2 separate regions of the Homo sapiens genome follow, and region 2 is linked to region 1. Evidence: fine-mapped expression QTL. A gene starts in region 1. The other region holds a variant in brackets. All regions are shown on one strand. Distances are from middle to middle.

Evidence for each region. PIP is the estimated chance that this variant, and not a neighbour inherited with it, causes the effect.
Region 2: its variant is fine-mapped to the expression of LAMC3 in whole blood (TOPMed, PIP above 0.99). The same link has a PIP of 0.9 or more in blood mononuclear cells.

The regions. Positions count from the first base shown.
Region 1 is chr9:131,002,602-131,014,003 of GRCh38, reverse strand. It overlaps LAMC3 (laminin subunit gamma 3), which reads right to left and starts at 4,830. Exons shown (of 28, transcript NM_006059.4): 1 at 4,417-4,830. The coding sequence starts at 4,789. RefSeq lists enhancers at 67-634, 635-1,202, 1,203-1,771.
Region 2 is chr9:131,041,934-131,049,933 of GRCh38, reverse strand. It overlaps LAMC3 (laminin subunit gamma 3), which reads right to left. Exons shown (of 28, transcript NM_006059.4): 8 at 4,274-4,410; 9 at 804-914. Among named protein-coding and RNA genes, the nearest start is that of LAMC3, 37 kb to the right of the region's middle. The variant C/TC (reference allele first, on the strand shown) is at 4,538.

The DNA of each region.
Region 1 (11,402 bases):
GGGCCCAGCGTTCCAGCCAGAACCCCCAGGGAGCAGGAGGGAGGACTTGGCCCCCAGCACTGGCCCAGGCCAAGGCAATCGCAGCCGCCCACTCGACAGGAAGACAGAACGGAGCCAAGGCTCAGGAGACCCAGCTGGCTCCAGGACCCCTCAGGGGCCACAGGGTCCCCCTAATGTCCAGCACCCTGGGACCCGGCTCCTCGCTGTGGCTGGCCAGACCCCAGCGTCTTCTCGGTGTCTGCACTCAGGCCATCCAGGCCCGGCAGGTCGAAGAACATCCTTCCCTCTTTGGTCAGCTCCTACCATCCTTCAGGTCTCAGCGAGACCCTTCCTGACCCTAGAGATGAGGCTCGTGCGCACCAGTGCATGTTCTGAGCATACATCCTCGTTCTCAGCACTGCTCAGTAAAGGCTGCCTTCTGGTGGGCCCTGAGCCCCTCAGGACAGGGGCCGCACATGGCCCTGTTCACAGCTGCATCCTGTGGCCAGTGAGCCAAGGCTGGGTGACCACCAAGCAAACGGCTAAATGAAAGCAAGAAGAAGTCAACTCCATGCAGGGACATCCGGGACCTGCGGGGGAGGGAGGGCAGAACTCATCTGCTTGGGGGACTCAGGTCTTTTTGTGGTTCCAGGAGATTCTCAGCGATCCAAGTGCAAGCCGGGAGGAGACTCCCCCAGCCCACCGAAAGCCACAGCCCATACTGTTCCTCCCAGGACCGAGGCTTCAAGCATGTGGACCAGCCTAGCCTGGACCCTCTTCATTCCCAAGTACAGCAGTTAGGGGGAGGGTCCCGGGGGCCACCATTTATTGAGTTGTGCGACCCCAAGCAACTGATCTCACCCTCAGTGCCTCAGTTTTGCTGTCTGTAAAAGAACAAAGCATGCCGGTTTGGGATGCCGCCTGGGCGAGTCCTTGGTACACGGTGAGAGCCCCGGAATGGTCTGTACCCCCGTCACTGTCCACTCCCCCAACACCCCACTGACTCCCAGGCCCCAGCCCCGTGGCCTCCCTGGGCCTTGGTGGTGGGCTGGGGCTGCCAGAGCCCACTGCTGCCTTTCATCCCAGACAGGAAGGCTCAGCTCAGAGATGACGGGAGGATCCGGAACAGATGTCCAGGAGCCACGGGGGGCTGGGAATGCGGCGACCTCCATCTCCTTCCCTGCCCCTCACCCCATTCCCTCTAGGAGACCCCGGGCCAGAGCTGGCCGCCCACTCTCCCTTCCCATGAGCCTTCAAGGAGAGGGAGCAGTGGGGGGACAGAGCCAGCAGAGGTGGCCTAAGGACCAGGAGGAGAGGTCATCAGACGGCCTCCACAGGGGACACCGACAATCCCAGGCCTCTCCTTCCCCCGCTATTATGCAAGCCATGGCTTAGCCTGGAGCAAACCTAAGTCATAGGAAACCAAAAAGAGGCCAAATCTGGGGCTGCGCTGGGCCCCCGGCGCCCCTTGTGCGTAAACAGAGACCAGCGTCAGGATGTCTTTGAGGAGGCAGGGCGGCCGGGACGAGCATTTCTCAATCCCCGCAAGGGAGCCTCAGCCCTGAGCTGTCTCAGCAGCCACGCTGGTCACACACAGGGACTGCCATGGCTCCGACCCGGGCTCATGAACCCGAACAGCTGCTCAGGAAGTGGCGACTCTTATCCGTACGGTACAGGTAAGGAAACTGAGGCTGAGAGAGGGGACTCCGCTTGCCCAGTGAGTGGCTCTGCTGGGCCTAAGTCCAAAGCCTCCTTTCGTGATTTCTATCCTATTCTGCCTCCCAGAGCAGGCAAAAGAGAATGCTGAGCTGGCCCCAGAGCACAGGACAGAGGAGGTGACCCTGTCACTCACACTTGTGGACTCTCTCCTATATGCCTGGTTTTCGGCGACAAAACAGGAAGAATGCTCACCGGGATAAGACACAGCAGGGAGTGTGTGTGTGTGTGTGTGTGTGTGTGTGTATGTGTGTGTGTGTTCGCTCTCTACATTCACAGTGTGGAGGCTCTCAGGTTCCTTGCTTTTAGAAGGATCAGAACCACTCTGCTTCTAAGGTTCTAGGCAGAGTTCCACGAGGGTGCACAGCTCAGCACAGGGCCTGGCACACAGTAGATGCACAGTAAACAGGAACTACCTCAAATCCAAAAACTTGGCCATTTCTCCCAACTTCCTCCCACCTTGTTTGTGCCTGGGCTGAGCTCTTTCCTTGGCCCCTGGGTTCCCAGGACACATGTGATACCCTTTGTCATGGAGCACTGTGTCTCCCCAACAACTCCCCACCCTGTCCCAGATTCCTTCCCCTGTGGCCTTGGGGTCCTGCCAGCTCCATCCAGACAGCTCCCCCAGCCTCCCCCCTCCCCACTGGCTTCCTGTCCCCTCCCCCTCGTCCCATTCAGAAGCCCCACCTAGTGATCCAGATAGGCTGAGAGAAGGTGACGTGGCCCCAGAAGAAGGGAGTTTCTGAGGTGGCAGCCAGTACCTGTGTGCTCTGCAGAGCGGGCTCACGGTCCTCCCCGCACCCCACTCCAATGTCACTTCCCAGCCCTCCCCAGGACACTGTCACCAGGCTGAGGTGGAGCTGACTCAGTTGATGGGTGGCGGAACTCACATCAAAGAGTTTATGCTCTGACCTCTGATGTCCATGGATGTCCACGCTCAGATGCTCACTTAGCAGCTCTGTGCCTTTGGGCAAAACAACCTCTCTGAGCCTCAATTTTCTCAGCTGAAACATGGGATACAGTCCCATCATCCCTAATCCAAACTCCTAGGCTCCAAATGTGTTTGGGAATTGAACATTTTTCAGCTTTTAGAAAGACGATGCAGGCCTTATACCATATATTGTGCTAATACCCCCAGTGGGGTCTGGGGCTGCCGGCTGTACTCAAATGAGATTTCAGTAGCAAAGCGAATGAATATTCATTCTCACTAGCATAAACATAGCTTATAAATAGCCTCAGGTCAGGTTTAGCAGCAAAAATGAGTTATAAAAATAATTTGAGTTTTCAAAGCTTTGGGAGGCTGACCTCGAAGATAAGGGAGTCTAACCAGTGATACCAGCCCCTCCTGAAAGGGCAGTGGAGGCTGCAACAGGAAAGACACTTGGCGCTTACCCGGCCACAGAGGACATGGGAATCGGGCTGAACACGGAGGGAGGAGAGAGCATTCCAGCTCCCTGCAGTGGGGGCAGGGGCTGAGAACCGGGGCTGGGTCCAGACTCCAGATTCTGATTCCTGGAGATCTAAGGGCTTCTGCACCTCGGCAAGTCATGAGCAGGGCAGAGAGGCCATGCCACCGGGCGCAGCTGCCCAGCAGCACGAAGAAACTTAGTCCTCCTCCCCAGAGGGTTAAACTTTGCCTGTGCAGTGATGAACATCACAGCTTCTATCTTCCAGAACCCACCCGAGGACTGCAGGCAGCTTCAGGGGTCCACTGAATACCTGAAGTTGACCAGAAGACCCAAGATCAGGAGCCCCTGCCCTAGAGGGTGACCAATTCAGTCCTTGGTGTGTCACCTCCCCAACAGTTCTGGTCTAGGATGGAAAACCATTACAGGGGATTATAATTGCAACCTAGAACCAAAGCTCAGCAAGTGACTCCCTGCCTCTCCCGCCCCACGGGGCACCCCTCAGTCTATCCTTCTGGCTATCTAGGGGTACAGGTCCTGTTTTTTTTTCTTCTTTTTTTCATTCTTTCTTTTTATTAAGAGATAAGGTCTCACTCTGTAGCCCAGGCTGTAGCACAGTGGCACTATCATATTTCATGCAGCCTCAACCTCTCAGTCTTAAGTGATCCTCCTGCCTCAGCCTCTTGAGTAGCTGGGACCATAGGTGTGCACCACCACGCCCAGCTTTTTTTTTTTTTTTTTTTTTTTTTTGAGACGGAGTTAGCTCTGTTGCCCAGGCTGGAGAACGGTGGTGCGACCTCGGCTCACGGCAACCTCCACCTCCCGGGTTCAAGCGATTCTCCTGCCCCAGCCTCCTGAGTAGCTGGAACTACAGGCACCTACCACCACGCCCGGCCAAATTTTCTATTTTTAGTAGAGACGGGTTTTCACCATGTTGGCCAGGCTGGTCTCGAACTCCTGACCTCAGGTGATCCGCCCGCCTCGGCCTCCCAAAGTGCTGGGATTACAGACGTCAGCCACCGCGCCCGGCCTATTTTTCTTTATTTTTTGTAAAGATGGGATCTCACTACGTTGCCCAGGCTGATCTTGAACTCCTGGGCTCAAGCGACCCTCCCATCTCGGCCTCCCAAAGTGCTGGGATTTCAGGAGTGAGCCACCGCACCCAGCCTAATTCCTATTTCTGAGCCCCTCCATCCAACACCATATCTGGGTCCTGCAGCCCAACCTGGGCGCACAGCAGCTCAGGCCTCAGCCTCAGACCCCCAGTGGAGTGGGGACACGGGGTGCGGTGGCGGTGCCCCCAGCCCGCGCTTACCTAGGCGGAGGGTGATGTTGACCGAGGTGGGGTACTGCACGCCGAAGGCCATGGACGGGCTCTGCCACCAGGTGCTCTCGTCCTGGCTGTGGAAGTCGGTGAGGTAGGAGGCGTTGTGGTGGCGCTGGGGGTCGGCGGCGTCGCAGCGCTGGCAATGAGCCCCCGCGCCCGCGGCGCCCACGTGGGGACAGAAGTCCTCGGGCGGGCTGCCGCACGTGTGCGAGGCCTGGGCGAGCCGCCCAAACGCCGCGTTCTCGAACACCGGCAGGCAGCGCTGCGGGCGCCCTGCGCCGTCATAGCACGCGCCCATGCCCGCGCCGGCCGCCCGCGGTGCCAGCAGCGCCAGCCCCAGCAGAAGCGCAGCCGCCGCCATGGTCAAGGGCACCGACGCCGCGCGCTCTGCCGGCCCCGCTCGGCTAGGGTGGGCGCGGACCGCGCGCTGGCCGCCAGGACCCGCCTTCCCCTGCGGGGCGGGGAGGCTGGAGGGAGGGGCGGGCGGCGGCGGCCCCACCCCACTAAAAATACCAGGGACCGCGCCGTCCCCGGGCGCCCACTCCCACCTGCTGGACGTGCCCGGCAGTGCGCGGCTCGGGAGTCTGCCCCAGAGGCGACCCGGGCCTCTTTGAGCCTCAGTTTCCTCGTCTGTGGAGTGGGGTCGGTAAAGATGCAGGCTCATTCTCGCCATTGGGAGGCTTCAATGGCTGCTCATTAAACAGAAACTGTTCAGCAGTGCCTTGGAGTCCTGAGATAAAAGGGGACAAGAGGATCTATCTCTAACTGATCGCTACCGTTTGCGCATCTCCTCCTAGCAATAAAGTGTGCCCTGGACAGGGTTGTGAGATGGCTCCGCATAGCTCCTGTCGCCCTTAACCCTGAAAAGCACTCCTGCTGCCGGCTGCGCTCTGTCCCCACAGCAAAGAGATTCTAACCTGACATTTGTGACAAGGGTACCTGGTCTTATCACAAATGTCACCTCAGAGAGGGCTTCCTTGTCTTCTGCCCCAACCCCCATAAATGCCCCCTTTACTCCCCATTTATTAACATTAGCAAATCGAGGGAGAGAAGTCATTCGATAAAATTTAGCAGCCAGGTCGTGCGCGGTGGCTCACGCCTGTAATCCTAGCACTTTGGGAGGTGGAGGCGGAAGGATAACTTGAGGCCAGGAGTTCGAGACCAACCTGGGCAAAATAGTGAGACCCTATCTCTACAAAAAAATACAAAAATTAGCCCGGCGTCATGGCACAAGCCTGTAGTCCCAGCTACCTGGGAGGCTGAGGTGGAAGGATCCCTTGAGCCCGGGAGGTTAGGCTGCAGTGGGCTGTGATCATGCCATTGCACTCCAGCCTGGCCAACAGAGTCAGACCCTGTCTCGAAAAAAAAAAAAAAAAAAAGGCAGCCATTCCCAGACGAACTCTAAGGAAAATAGAAATAAATTTCCTGGCCTGGCGCGGTGGCTCTCGCCTATAATCCCAGCATTTTGGGAAGTTGAGGAAGGCAGATCACCTGAGGTCAGGAGTTCGAGACCAGCCTGGCCAACATAGTGAAACCCCGTCTCTACTAAAAACACAAAAATTAGCTGGGTGTGGCGGTGCGTGCCTGTAATCCCAGCTACTCAGGAGGCTGAGGCAGGAGAATTGTTTGAACCCGGGGGGCAGAAGTTGCAGTGAACTGAGATCATGCCATTGCACTCCAGCCTGGGCAACAAGAGAGAAACTCCATCAAAAAAAAAAAAAAGAAAGAAAAGAAAGAAAGAAAATTTTTGGAAGCAAGATGAACTGTAGTGGGCTGATTCACTACCAGTTATTTACACATGATTAAAACAATACGGTTGTGGAAAGGACTACAGAATAGACCCATGGAATAAGTTAGAGATTTCAGAACTATATCTAAGTAGAGTTAGTATATGATATCACCACTGGTACCTAAGGTTATTTTGGAAGTTCTAGCTAATACAATAAGACAAAAAACTTAAAAGATATAAATATTTATATCTTCTACTTACCTGAACATACATCTAGAAAATCTAAAAGATTCTACTAAGACTATTAAAATTAATAAGAGCTCCGTAAGATGGCTGACTACAGGATAGAGTACGAAAACCAATGCCAGCAATAGGCATTTTCTGGCTGGGTGCGGTGGCTCACGCCTGTAATCCCAGCACTTTGGGAGGCTGAGGCAGGCAGATCACCTGAGGTCATGAGTTCGAGACCAGCCTGGGCAATATGGTGAAACCCCATCTCCACTAAAAATACAAAAATTAGCCAGGCATTGTGGCACACCTGTAATCCCAGCTACTTGGAAGGCTGAGGCACAAGAATCGCTTGAATTCAGGAGACAGAGGTTGCAGTGAGCCGAGGTCACGCAAATGCACTCCAGCCTATGCAATAGAGCAAGACCCTGTTTTTTAAAAAACAAAACAAAAACAAAACAAAACAAACAAAAAACTGATGCCAGCAATGATGTAGGAAATGGTAGAACACCTAATAATAAATCTGGTATGAAATGTGCAAGATATAAATGAATCAAATTATAAAATGCTACTGAGAGACAGAAAACCTGAAGAGACCAGCATCTATATTCACGGATTTCCAACTGTTTAAATATACAAATTCTCCCCAAGTTAAAATATCATTTAATGTAATTCCAAATTGTTTTTTTGATGGTGTTATGGAAGCTTCTTTGTTAAAGTTTTCTCTTATGGTCAAGAACATGATTGCAGCAGACTCTTGATGGTCCACGCAGCTACCCTGAGCTGGGCTGTGCACCCATCCAAAGCAAATTCATCTATCAGGCACAGGAAACATGGCAGCCCACAGGAATTCTAGGAACCCACAAAAACTGTTCTAATATCTTTAAAGTCAGAAGAAAAAAAAGAACTTTTAGGCTGAAGAACATGTTTTAACGTATGATATTAATATACCCGTCTTTAGATCAATGCAATGGTTAAATATAATTTTTAAAAATGTTAGTGCCAGGCACGGTGGCTCATACCTGTGATCCCAGCACATTGGGAGGCTAAGGCGGGTAGATCGCTGGAGCTCAGGAGTTTGAGGCCAGGCTGGGCAACATGGTGAGACCTCGTCTCTACTAAAAATACAAAAAATTACCCGGGCATGGTGGCATACACCTGTGGTCCCAGCTGCTTGGGAGGCTGAGGTGGGAGAATTGCTTGAGCCCAGGGGGCGAAGGTTGCAGTGAGCCAAGATCACGCCACTGCACTCCAGCCTGGGTGACAGAGGGAGGCCCTGTCTCAAAAAAAAAAAAAAAAATTATAATTGTGGTAAAATACATATAACATATTTATAAAATTTACGATCTTAACCACTTTTAAGTTACAATTAAATAATATTAAGCACATTCACATTGTTGTGCAACCATCACCACCATCCATCTCCAGACCTTTTTTTTTTTTTTTTTGAGATGGAGTCTTGCTCTGTCACCTAAGCTAGAGTGCAGTGGCGCCATCTTGGCTCACTGCAACCTCTGCCTCCCAGGTTCAGGCAATTCTCCTGCCTCAGCCTCCCTGGTAGCTGGGATTACAGGCACCTGCCACCATGCCCAGCTAATTTTTTTATTTTAGAGACTGGGTTTCACTATGTTGGCCAGGCTGGTCTCGAACTCCTGACCTCAAGTGATCCTCCTGCCTCAGCCTCCCAAAGTGCTGAGATTACAGACGTGGGCCACTGCACACGGCCTCCAGAACTTTTTATCTTGCAAAACTGAAACTCTGTCCTCTTAAACAATAACTCTCTATAACCTTCTCCCCTCGGTAAAATAGAATTTTTAATATTTTTTAATAAATAAAGGAGCCCGCTAAGGCAAAACTGCCCAGGGTCCAGGAAAGTCATAAAGTGTCCATGATAATGTTAGAAATGCTTGTTCCTCGGTGCCATAAAGAAATACCACTTGAACATAAATTTAATTTCTTCAGCAAGGCTATTTTTACTTTGTGCAGAAAGGGTACACTCGCCAGCAGTTTTGCCACTAGAGTACACTGAACAAAGGAGACAGGGTCATTTATAACCTGACACGTCTACTTTACTGCTGTGTCCAGTTTCCATTGGCTGGAACGGGACTTCACATTCTGTATTTGTCCTGATTGGCTAGCAACTTAGAACTTTTTAAAAGAGGCAAAGGTGGAGGAGAACAAAGGAAGGAGGAAGAAATTTGTGGAGTGCTGAGAAAGGTAAAAACACTTCTAAGTAAGGAAGAGGAATAGGTTATGACCTAATGCCTGCTTGGACCAGTATAAGCATGCCAGGGCAAATATTTAGGCTAAATTGTGGGAGCTAAGAACATAAAGTACATTGATTTCTTTATTACGGCTAGCAGATATTTAAGAATGTTAGCACAGGTCTTTGAATAAATTTTGCTTCTGAGAGAAGTTACCATTTATTCTTAATTAGATGGGGAGGAGAGTCTCTTTGAAGAGGAACCTCTACTTTACTTTTTACAGTAACACCCGGCTGGTATCACTACAGCTAGGTGAAGTATTTGTAGTTCGCAGCATGCAGTAACAGTACAAGCAATAAGACTTTCACCTACAGTGAACTTGACCAAGGTACAGGTGGAAGGAGACGATGGTTCATCCAATCTCTGGTGCTTGAGAGTAGGGAATAGTGATTATAGAGACTGTGGGATTGGGTGGCCCTTGCTGAATGTCACTGATACCTTGAAGAGGGAAAATGACCAGGTCAGGGTGATCTTGGACCAATCCAAAACAAATTTAGAAAGCCAGAGGCCCTTGTTGGCAACAATTAGAAAAAAAAAAAAAAAGACCTGGTGGGGCATGGTGGCTCACGCCTGTAATCCCAGCACTTTGGGAGGCCCAGTCAGGTGGATCACTTGAGATCAGGAGTTTGAGACCGGCTTGGCCAACATATGAATCCCTGTCTCTAACTAAAAATATAATAATTAGCCGGGCCTGGCGCTTGCACCTATAGTTTCAGCTACTCCAGAGGCTGAGGCACTAGAATCACTTGAACCCGGGAGGCAGAGGCTGCCGTGAGCCAAGATGGCGCCACTGTACTCCCGCCTGGGTGACACAGTGAGACTCCATCTCAAAAAACAAACAAACGAACAAACAAACAAACCACACGGGGCAGACCGAGCTGAAAACTAGGCTCAGGATCTGATTGTAAGTTGCACTGGACTCCAGAGGAGATTGATTTCCCATCCCTGGAAAGCATCCTGAATCACAATCAGGGTCCGGATAGGGAAGAAGTGGGACCTTGAGACTTAGGGTGGGTATCTGGACAGATTCACTGAGAACCCTGAATCTCTAGATTCCTTTAACACTCTGGGCCTGAAGAAGGGATCCACTCCGCTTTTCTAGAAGATAGTGCCCACCACCCCACCACTGCTTGAAGAGTTTGCAGGAGCCTCAAATGAGGCAGGTGTCTATAAGGCCATCCTCGCCCTTCTCCTATAAGATGGTCCTTGCCCACCTCCCCTCTTGGCCAGAGGTCCAGCAACTAGGGAAAAGTCCAGCATGGCCTGACTGGGGAAGTTCTGAGCCTGCTAAGGATGCAGCAGGATTATCCCCCAAAGAAGTTTGCAGGGATTGGCTAATAGTGCTAACTTTATATATATAGTCATATGCTACATAATGACATTTTGTTCAGTGATGGACCACCTAAGATTACAATGGAGCTGAAAAATTCCTATTGTCCAGTGATGTCATAGCCATCATAATATCGTAGCACGAATACCTTATATTTTTAAATAAATTTAATGTAGCTTAAGTGTACAATGTTCATAAAGTCTACAGTAGTGTACAGTAACATCCTAGGCCTTCACATTCGCTCACCACTCGCTCACTGACTCCCCAGAGCAACTTCCAGTCCTGCAAGCTCCATTTATGGTAAGTGCCCTATATGGGTATACCATTTTTAATCTTTTATAGCATATACATATTTTTTTGAGATAGAGTCTCACTCTGTTGCCCAGGCTGGAGTGCAGTGGCATGATCTCGGCTCACTGCAGCCTCTGCCTCCCAGGTTCAAGTGATTCTCCCACCTTAGCCTCCTGAGTAGCTGGGACTAAAGGCGCCATCACATCCAGCTAAATTGTGTATTTTTGGTAGAGATGGAGTTTCCTTTTTTTGAGACAGAGTCTTGCTCTGTCGCCCAGGCTGGAGTGCAGTGGCACGATCTCGGCTCACTGCAAGCTCCACCTCCTGGGTTCATGCCGTTCTCCTGCCTCAGCCTCCCGAGTAGCTGGGACTACAGGCGCCCGCCACCACGCCCGGCTAACTTTTTGTATTTTTTTTTTTAGTAGAGACGGGGTTTCATCGTGTTAGCCAGGATGGTCTCGATCTCCTGACCTTGTGATCTGCCCACCTCGGCCTCCCAAAGTGCTGGGATTACAGGCGTAAGCCACCGTGCCCGGCCGAGATGGGGTTTCACTGTGTTGGCCAGGCTGGTCTCAAACTCCTGACCTCAAGTGATCCACTCACTTGAGCCTCCCAAAGCGCTGGGATTACAGGTGTGAGCTACCATGCCCAGCCCACATATTTTTACTGTAGCTTTTCTATATTTAGAGGCACAAATACTTATCATTGTGCTAAAATTGCCTGCAGTATTCAGCACAGTGCCATTCTGTAGAGGTTTGTAGCCTAGGAACAATAGACTACACCATATAGCCTAGGTATGCAGTAGGCTGTACCATCTAGGTTTGTGTATGTTCTCTGATGTTCACACAATGACAGAATCACTTGCCGACACATTTCTTAGAATACATCCCCATCATCAAATGATGTGTGGCTATGTTTACATATATATAGAGAGAGAGAAAGAGAGAGAGAGAAAAAGAGAATATATACGTGTGTGTGTATATATATATGTATATATGGGGAGAGAAGAATTAATTAATAACTTAAAATAAATTGAGGGAGGGCCAGGCGTTGTGGCTCACACCTGTAATCCCAGCACTTTGGGAGGCCGAAGCAGGTGGATCACTTGAGGTCGGGAGTTTGAGACCAGCCT
Region 2 (8,000 bases), 38 kb before region 1:
AGCCACAGTGGGGCTAAAGATGGGCTCTAGGCTCTGGGTTCTGGGGCTGAGACAGTCGCCAGGAGACCACAGTTCCCCTCACTGTGGGGTGGAGAGGTCAGAATGATCAAGAACCTCCTTCCTTTTGCAAGAATGCCATGGCCCTGGGCTTAGGGTGCAGTGGCCTGGCGGGTGAGGGGCTGATGGGAAACACAGATTCTCTGGGCCATGACAGTGGCTATGGCCCTGTGGCACTGAAGAAGCCCTCCATGACAAAGCTATGACCAGAAAAACGGGGGTTTCATCAGATACGGTGGTCTGATGGCAGAATAACAGCCTTCCCAAGGCATCCACATTCTAATCCCTGGAATCCATAAATATGGTGTGTTCTGTGGCAGGGGACATTAAGGTTGTTAATCAGCTGACCTGAGGTAGGAAGAGCCTCTTGGGTTATCCAGCTGGGCCCCATCAATCATTAGAGATTAATGGCAAATACACAAGAGGGAGGCAGGGGAGTTGGTGCCAGTGATGGGGCGTGAGAAAAACTCAGCTGCTTTGAAGATGGAGGAAGAGGCCATGAGCCCAGGAATGCAGGCGGCTTCTAGAGGCTGGGAAAGGCAAGGAAGGGACTTTCCCATGGGCCTCCAGAAGGAACTCAGCCCTGCTGACACCTTGATGTTAGCTCCGAGAGACCTATTTCTGACTTCTCCAGAACTCTAAGAGAATAAACTGGCATTGTTTTCAGCCTCTAATATGCGGCAAGTTGTTTAGCAGCAGGAGGAACCGACACAGGGCGGCCAGCCCCCACCTGGTGCTGGAGGTACCTGGTGCTGTGAGCTCCTCCTCGTCTTCTGGGCTCAGGAGGACCCCATTTGGGCTCCATTGTGGGGGGTGCTCAGAGCCCCCCACACTTCTGGCCCACCAGCCTTCGGCTCCTAGACAGCAAACACAGACACCCCCCGATCAGTGTGAGGCCCCGGAGGGTGGTCTCCAGGTGCCAGCCCCAGGTGGGGGCCCTGGGGTAGGAGGGAGCCCCAGGAGAAGCTAGAAAGCTCAGGGACCCGGATCTGCTTGGGGGCATGGTCAGACCTGGAAGCCTGCCCTGCCCTTTCAGTGGGGTTTTGAGCTCAGCATGAAGACAGCCTGAAGACCCCCACATGGGGGCCCTGGGACATCAGGGCCATCTCTAATAGTACCAGACTTGACCTCATCTTCAGGTTCTCAGAGAACTTTCTCACCTGTGACCTCATGAACCCTGTCCTTCCAGTGGCCCATGTCATTAACAGCACCTCAGGCAAGGAGGCCACCTGGTTAGGAAGGGGCCCAGCCACGACGGGAGCCCAGGCCTTCTGGTCCCCAGTGCCAGTTCAGTGCCTCCTCCCTCTGGCCACAGCAGTTAACACGGAGCACAGCCCAGCACACAGCGAGTGACCTTAAGGAGGTGCCTCTCCAGGGGGTAGCGGGCAATGAGGCAGAGGCCAAATACCTGGGGCAGCCAAGGGGTAAGAAGGAAGGAACGGAGTGGGGAAAGAGGTCAGAGAAAGGAAGATGTCAACATGAAGAGAAGTTTGCAGACAGGCATTTAGAAGGAACTAGAAGGCCAGGCACAGTGGCTCATGCCTGTAATCCCAGCACTCTGAGAGGCCGAGGTGGGTGGATCATCTGAGGTCAGAAGTTCGAGACCAGCCTGGCCAACATGGCGAAACCCCATCTCTGCTAAAAATACAGAAATTAGCCAGGCATGGTAGCAGCTGCCTATAATCTGAGCTACTCAGGAGGCTGAGGCAGGAGAATCGCCTGAACCCGAGAGGCGGAGGTTGCAGCGAGCTGAGATTGTGCCACTGCACTCCAGCCTGGGTGACAGAGCAAGACTCTGACTCAAAAAAAAAAAAAAAAAAAAAAAAAAATCAGCTGGGTGTGGTGGCTCACACCTATAATCCTAGCGCTCTGGGAGGCCGAGGCAGATGGATCATGAGGTCAAGAGATCAAGACCATCCTGGTCAACATGGCAAACCCCGTCTCTGCTAAAAAAATAAAATAAAAATAAATAAAAATAATAAAAATTTAAAAACTACTTGTTTTCTTTTTTTTTGAGACAGAGTCTCACCCTGTCACTCAGGCTGGAGTGCAGTGGCGCGATCTCGGCTCACTGCAACCTCTGCCTCCCAGGTTCAAGCGATTCTCCTGCCTCAGCCTCCCGAGTAGCTGGGATTACAGGAGCTGGCCACCACGCCTGGCTAATTTTTGTATTTTTAGCAGAGACGGGGTTTCGTCATGTTGGCCAGGCTGGTCTCGAACTCTTGACCTCAGGTGATCCGCTCCCCCCACCCCCACCCCGGCCTCCCAGAGTGCTGGGATTACAGGCGTGAGCCACTGCGCCCAGCCACAGTTTCCATTTCTAAGACAGCAAATATCCATACAAACCACCCACATAAACAAAAGCACTTTGGGGTTCTCAATAATTTTCAAGAGCATAAAGGGATCCAGAGGCCGGGTGCGGTGGCTCACACCTGTAATCCCAGCACTCTGGGAGGCTGAGGAGGGTGGATCAGTTGAGGTCAGGAGTTCAAGACCAGCCTGACCAACATGGTGAAACCCCCGACCTGTACTAAAAATACAAAAATAAGCTGGGCGTGGTGGTGGGTGCCTGCAGTCCCAGCTACACAGGAGGCTGAGGCAGGAAAATCACTTGAACCTGGGAGGCGGAGGTTGCAGAGAGCTGAGATCACGCCATTGCACTCCAGCCTGGGCAACACAGTGAGACTCCGTCTTAAAAAAAAAAAAAAAAAGAGGAATTCAGAGACCAAAAAGTTTTGAGAACTCCTGCGCAAGGGCAACTGTGAGACAAAATGAGATGACACCCCTGAAGGGCCGGCCACACCCAGTGCCTGGCCCAATGTGAGAACAGATCATGACACTGTTCTTAGGGTCTAGAAAATGAGTCCTGCCCAACGCTGACACCCTAGACCCCCGGACCCAGGACCCAGACACGCGGCGCCGGTCCGCGCATCTCTCGGTCCTGCTTTCTGCGCGGCTTCCAGCAGAGGGCGCGCGGCCCTCATGTCTGGGGCCGCCCCAGCGTCGGCCCTGAGGTTCTTCTGTTTCAGCTGATGCCTCGCTCCTTCCTGGGGACAGGCGGAAGGTGCGGGGCGCTCCGTGGGACATCGCTGGGGCCCACGCAGCCTCTGGTTTAATGCAGAGCTCCGAGCTCTGCTGCTTTCCTCTTTAAATATGCGGCTGTGCCACCTGGAGTCAGGGACCACGGTATAGGCCACCACAGCGGTTAAGGGCAAAACAGCTGGGCGCGGACACTCATAATCCCAGCACTTTGGGAAGCCGAGGTGGGCGGGATTGCCTGAGCTCAGGAGTTCTAGACCAGCCTGGGCAACATGGTAAGACCCCGTCTGTACAAAAAAAAAAAAAAAAAAAAAAAAAATACAAAAATTAGCTCGGCATGGTGGTGCACGCCTGTAGTCCCAGCATTTTGGGAGGCGGAGGTGGGCAGACTACTTGAGCCCAGGAGATTGAGACCAGCCTGGGTCTAAAGACATGGCAAAACCCTGTCTTTAGAAAAAAATATAAAAATTAGCCGGGCACGGTGGTGCACACCTGTGGTCCTAGCTACTCAGGAGGCTGAGGTGGGAGGATCACGTGAGCCCAGGGAGGTGGTGGCTGCAGTGAGCTGTGCTGTGCAATCTTGCACCACTGCACTTCAGCCTTGGTGACTCAGCAAGACCCTGTGTCCAAAAAAAAAAAAAAAAAAAAAAAAAAAAAGGAGCAAAACTCAGGAGCTGACAAATGCAGTGCTCACAACTGTTATGTGGCCTCAGGCAAGTGGCCTACCTTTTGTAGGTCTCAGTTACTTCATCATTGAAAGGGGAATGAGAATCCTTGCATGTTAGGTGCTCAGCACAGTGCCTGGCAAACAGCAGGTGCTCAATAAGTGGAGGCCAGGAGACTGAGCCTGAATCCCCAGTGTTTAGACACACCAAGGGAGGCCAGTCTCAACGGGGTGAGTGGGAAATTCCCCTACAGGATCCAAAAAGCGTCACGTACCCGGCCCCCAACCCCACCACGGGTATAAAGAGAAGAGTCAGGGACTGGGGAGGGAGCTGGGGGTCGCAGGTGGGCACTGGGGAGCCATCATCTCACCCCCGACCCCACCTAGGCTGTGCAGGCCTGTGGCTCCTCTCCACAATGGGAGATCCACTAATGCAAGATCTCCCCAGGGCAGGATCACCTGCCTAGGCTGGGAGCAGACCCTTGGGAGGCGTTTGCAGGGAGCATCTCTTACCCTGGTGGAAATCGCTGAGGATGTGATGCACCTGGAACTGGGCAGTGGACGCGCACACCTTGGAGTGGCCATAGCAGAAACAGCTGCTGCAGCCAGCTGGATTGTGGGGCTGCAGGTTAAAGGTCCCCGGGCGACATCTGAAATGGAGGCAGGACATGCCCACGAGGGCCACGTGAATCAGCCAGGAAGGGGCGGGGCCAGGGTATCCCAGCTGGACCAATGAGAGTCTAGAATCACTGCAGAAACTTAAAAACAATTTTTTTT[C/TC]AGAATTCTAGAAGAGTAGTAAGAACATTACAGATTGTTCCCATACCTGCTTCAGACAGCCTCCCCTGATGCTGACATCTGACATTACCACAGTACATTTGTCAAAACTAAGTTAACTAAACTCCAGACTTTATTAGGTTTTGTTTTTTTGTTGTTGTTGTTTTTTTTTTTTTTTGAGACAGAGTCTTGTTCTGTGGCCCAGGCTGGAGTGCAATGGTGCAATCTTGGCTCACTGCAGCCTCCGCCTCCCGGGTTCAAGTGATTCTCCTGCCTCAGCCTCCCGGGTAGCTGGGATTGCAGGCGCCTGCCACCACACCCGGCTAATTTTTGTATTTTTAGTAGAAACGGGATTTCACCATGTTGGCAGGTTGACCTCGAACTCCTGACCTCAGGGGATCCGCCCGCCTCAGCCTCCCAAAGTACTGGGATTTCAGGCTTGAGCCACCGCGCCCAGCGACTTTAATAGGATTTCTCCACTTTTTCCTCTAATGTCTGGTTTCTGCTGCAGGATCCCATCCAGGACACGGTGTTGCATTTAGTGGTATCCTTGTTCTCCTCCAACCTATCACCGCTTCTCAGTCTTTCCTTGTCTGCCACTATCTTGACACTTTTTGAAAAGCACTGATCAGGTATTTTTAGAATGTCTGATGTTTCTCATGATTAGACCAGAGTTATAGGCTTGGGAAAGAAATACACAGAGGTGAAGTACCCTTCTCGTCATATCACATGGGGGCACAGGAAACCCACATGACATCCAAGCGATGCTGACTTTCATCACCTGTGCTGTCTACCAGTCTCTCCACTGTGCAATCACCACGGTCCAGTCATTAGAAGCAAGTCACTGAATAGGCCGGACGCGGTGGCTCAAGCACTTTAAATTTTTTTTTGAGACGAAGTCTCGCTCTGTTGCCCAAGCTGGAGTGCAGTGGCACGATTTCAGCTCACTGTAACCTCTGTCTCCCGGGTTCAAACAATTGTCCTGCCTCAGCCTCCCAAGTAGCTGGGACTACAGGTGTGCGCCACCATGCCCGGCTAATTTTTGTATTTTTAGTAGAGACAGGGTTTCACTATGTTGGCCAGGCTGGTCTTGAACTCCTGACCTCGTGATCCATCCACCTCGGCCTCCCAAAGTGCTGGGATTACAGGCATGAGCCACCGCGCCTGGCCGGCTCACGCACTTTGGGAGGCCGAGGTGGGTGGATCACCTGAGGTCAGTTCGAGATCAGCCTGACCAACATGGTGAAACCCCATCTCTACTAAAAATACAAAAATTAGCCAGGCGTGGTGGTGGGTGCCTATAATCCTAGCTACTTAGGAGGCTGAGGCAGGAGAATCGCTTGAACCCGGGAGACAGAGGTTGCAGTGAGCCGAGATCATACCACTTCACTCCAGCCTGAGCAAAAGAGCGAAACTCCGTCTCAAAAAAAAAAAAAAAAGCAGCAAGTCACTAAATGCAGCCCAGTCTCAAAAAGAGGGGGATTAAGCTCGACCTCCTAGAGGAAGAGTATCAAAGAACCCACGGACAGATGTTAAAGCCACCCCAGTAATTAATAGATATTTTGAGGTTATGCAAATATCCTCTCTTTCCTTAAAGTTCTGCCCACCAATGTCAGCATTCATCGGCAGCTCTTGCCTGTAGCAATTACCACTGTGAGGTCTGAACAGTGGTTTTCCAGTTCCTTCATTTCTACATTCATTACTTGGAATTCTTCTGCAAGGAAGGTTTGTCTCTTCATGCCCATCTATTTATGTATTCAATCATCTATTTACATCAGTATGGATTCGTGGATTTGACTTTATTCTCTGGGTTATAATCCAATACTATCGTTTATTTTGTTGCTCAAATTGTTTCAGCCCTGAGAGCTCTTTCACGTCGGCTCCTGTGTCCTTTTGACATGGGCCCACGTTCTGGTTTGGGCTGTTTTGTTTGTGTCTGTCTCTGTTTTTCAGCATTTCCTTGCTTCCTGGCACTGTAAGACGCCTTGGGCTTATCTTGTCTTTTTCCAGCCCCAGCCCCAGAATCTGCCACTTCTCCAAGCAGCTCTGGTGAATGTCAGACACAAAGCCAGGAAGAAGAGATAGTGTGTACCCAAGGAGCTAAACCCATGTTTGTCTGCTGGCCGCACTGCTGGAGCTTGGAGGCCTCTTGAACACTTGAAAGAGGAAGTTTATGTACTTCCTGGCCTTGGGAGAGCCCCTTTGACTTGCAGAGCTTCAGATGCCCCATTTGTACCATGATCAGACTGCAAAGATGGCAAACAGGCTCAAAATCCAGCTCAGTGGGTAGGGGCTTCCTGAAGCAGGGTGTTAAGAAGGATCCTGAGGTTATAGTAGGGCTCATGGCCAAGACTGCTGTGCCCCATTAGTGATGTCTGTTGTGGGTGTGAAAGGGGAGGGTTGTGATAGTGTTGCCTTAGTGATGTCTGCCATGGGTATGCCATCAGTGATGTCTGCCATGGTGTGAAAGGGGAGAGTTGATGGTGCTCCATTAGTGATGTCTGCTGTGGGTATGAAAGGGGAGGGTTGTGATAGTGCTCCCTTAGTGATGTCTGCCATGGGTATGCCATTAGTGATGTCTGTTGTGGGTGTGAAAGGGGTGTGTTGACAGTGCTCCATGAATGATGTCTGCTATGGGTGTGAAAAAGAAGGGTTGTAGTAGTGCTTCATTAGTGATGCCTGCCATGGCTATGAAAGGGAAAGTTTGATATGGCACCATTAGTGATGTCTGCCATGGCTGTGAAAGGCAAGGGTTGATAGTGCTCCATTAGTGATGCCTGCTGTGGGTATGAAAGGGGGAGGCTGTGATAGTTCTCCATTAGTGATGTTTGCCATGGTTATACCATTAGTGATGTCTGCTGTGGGTGTGAAAGGGGTGCATTGACAATGCTCCATGAGTGATGTTGGCCGTGAGTGTGAAAAGGGAGGGTTGTGATAGTGCTCCATTAGTGATATCTGCTGTGGGTAAGAAAGGGGAAGACTGTGATAGTGCTCCCTTAGTGATGTGTACCATGGGTATACCATTAGTGATGTCTGCTGTGGGTGTGAAAGGGGTGTATTGACAGTGCTGCATGAGTAATGTCTATTGAGTGTGAAAAGGGAGGGCTGTGATAGGTCTGCCGTGGGTGTGAAAGGGTTGTGATAGTGCTCCGTTAGTGGTGTCTGTCATGGGTGTGAAAGGGGAGCGTTGATAATACTCCATGAGTGATGTCTGCTGTGGGTGTGAAACGGGAGGCCTGTGATAGTGCTCCATTAGCTATGTCTGCAGTGAGTGTGAAACGGGAGGCCTGTGATAGTGCTCCATTAGCGATGTCTGCCACAGCAGGTGGTAGTACGAGCACCATCTATTTACTATCCCTGGATTAGATGGTCTCTCCTATCATTCCAGTTCTTTCTTTTCAGGATTCTAAGCTAAGACATGTATTTTCTCAGCTTATGAATGATCAGTGGTGTTGAATCAAAGCAC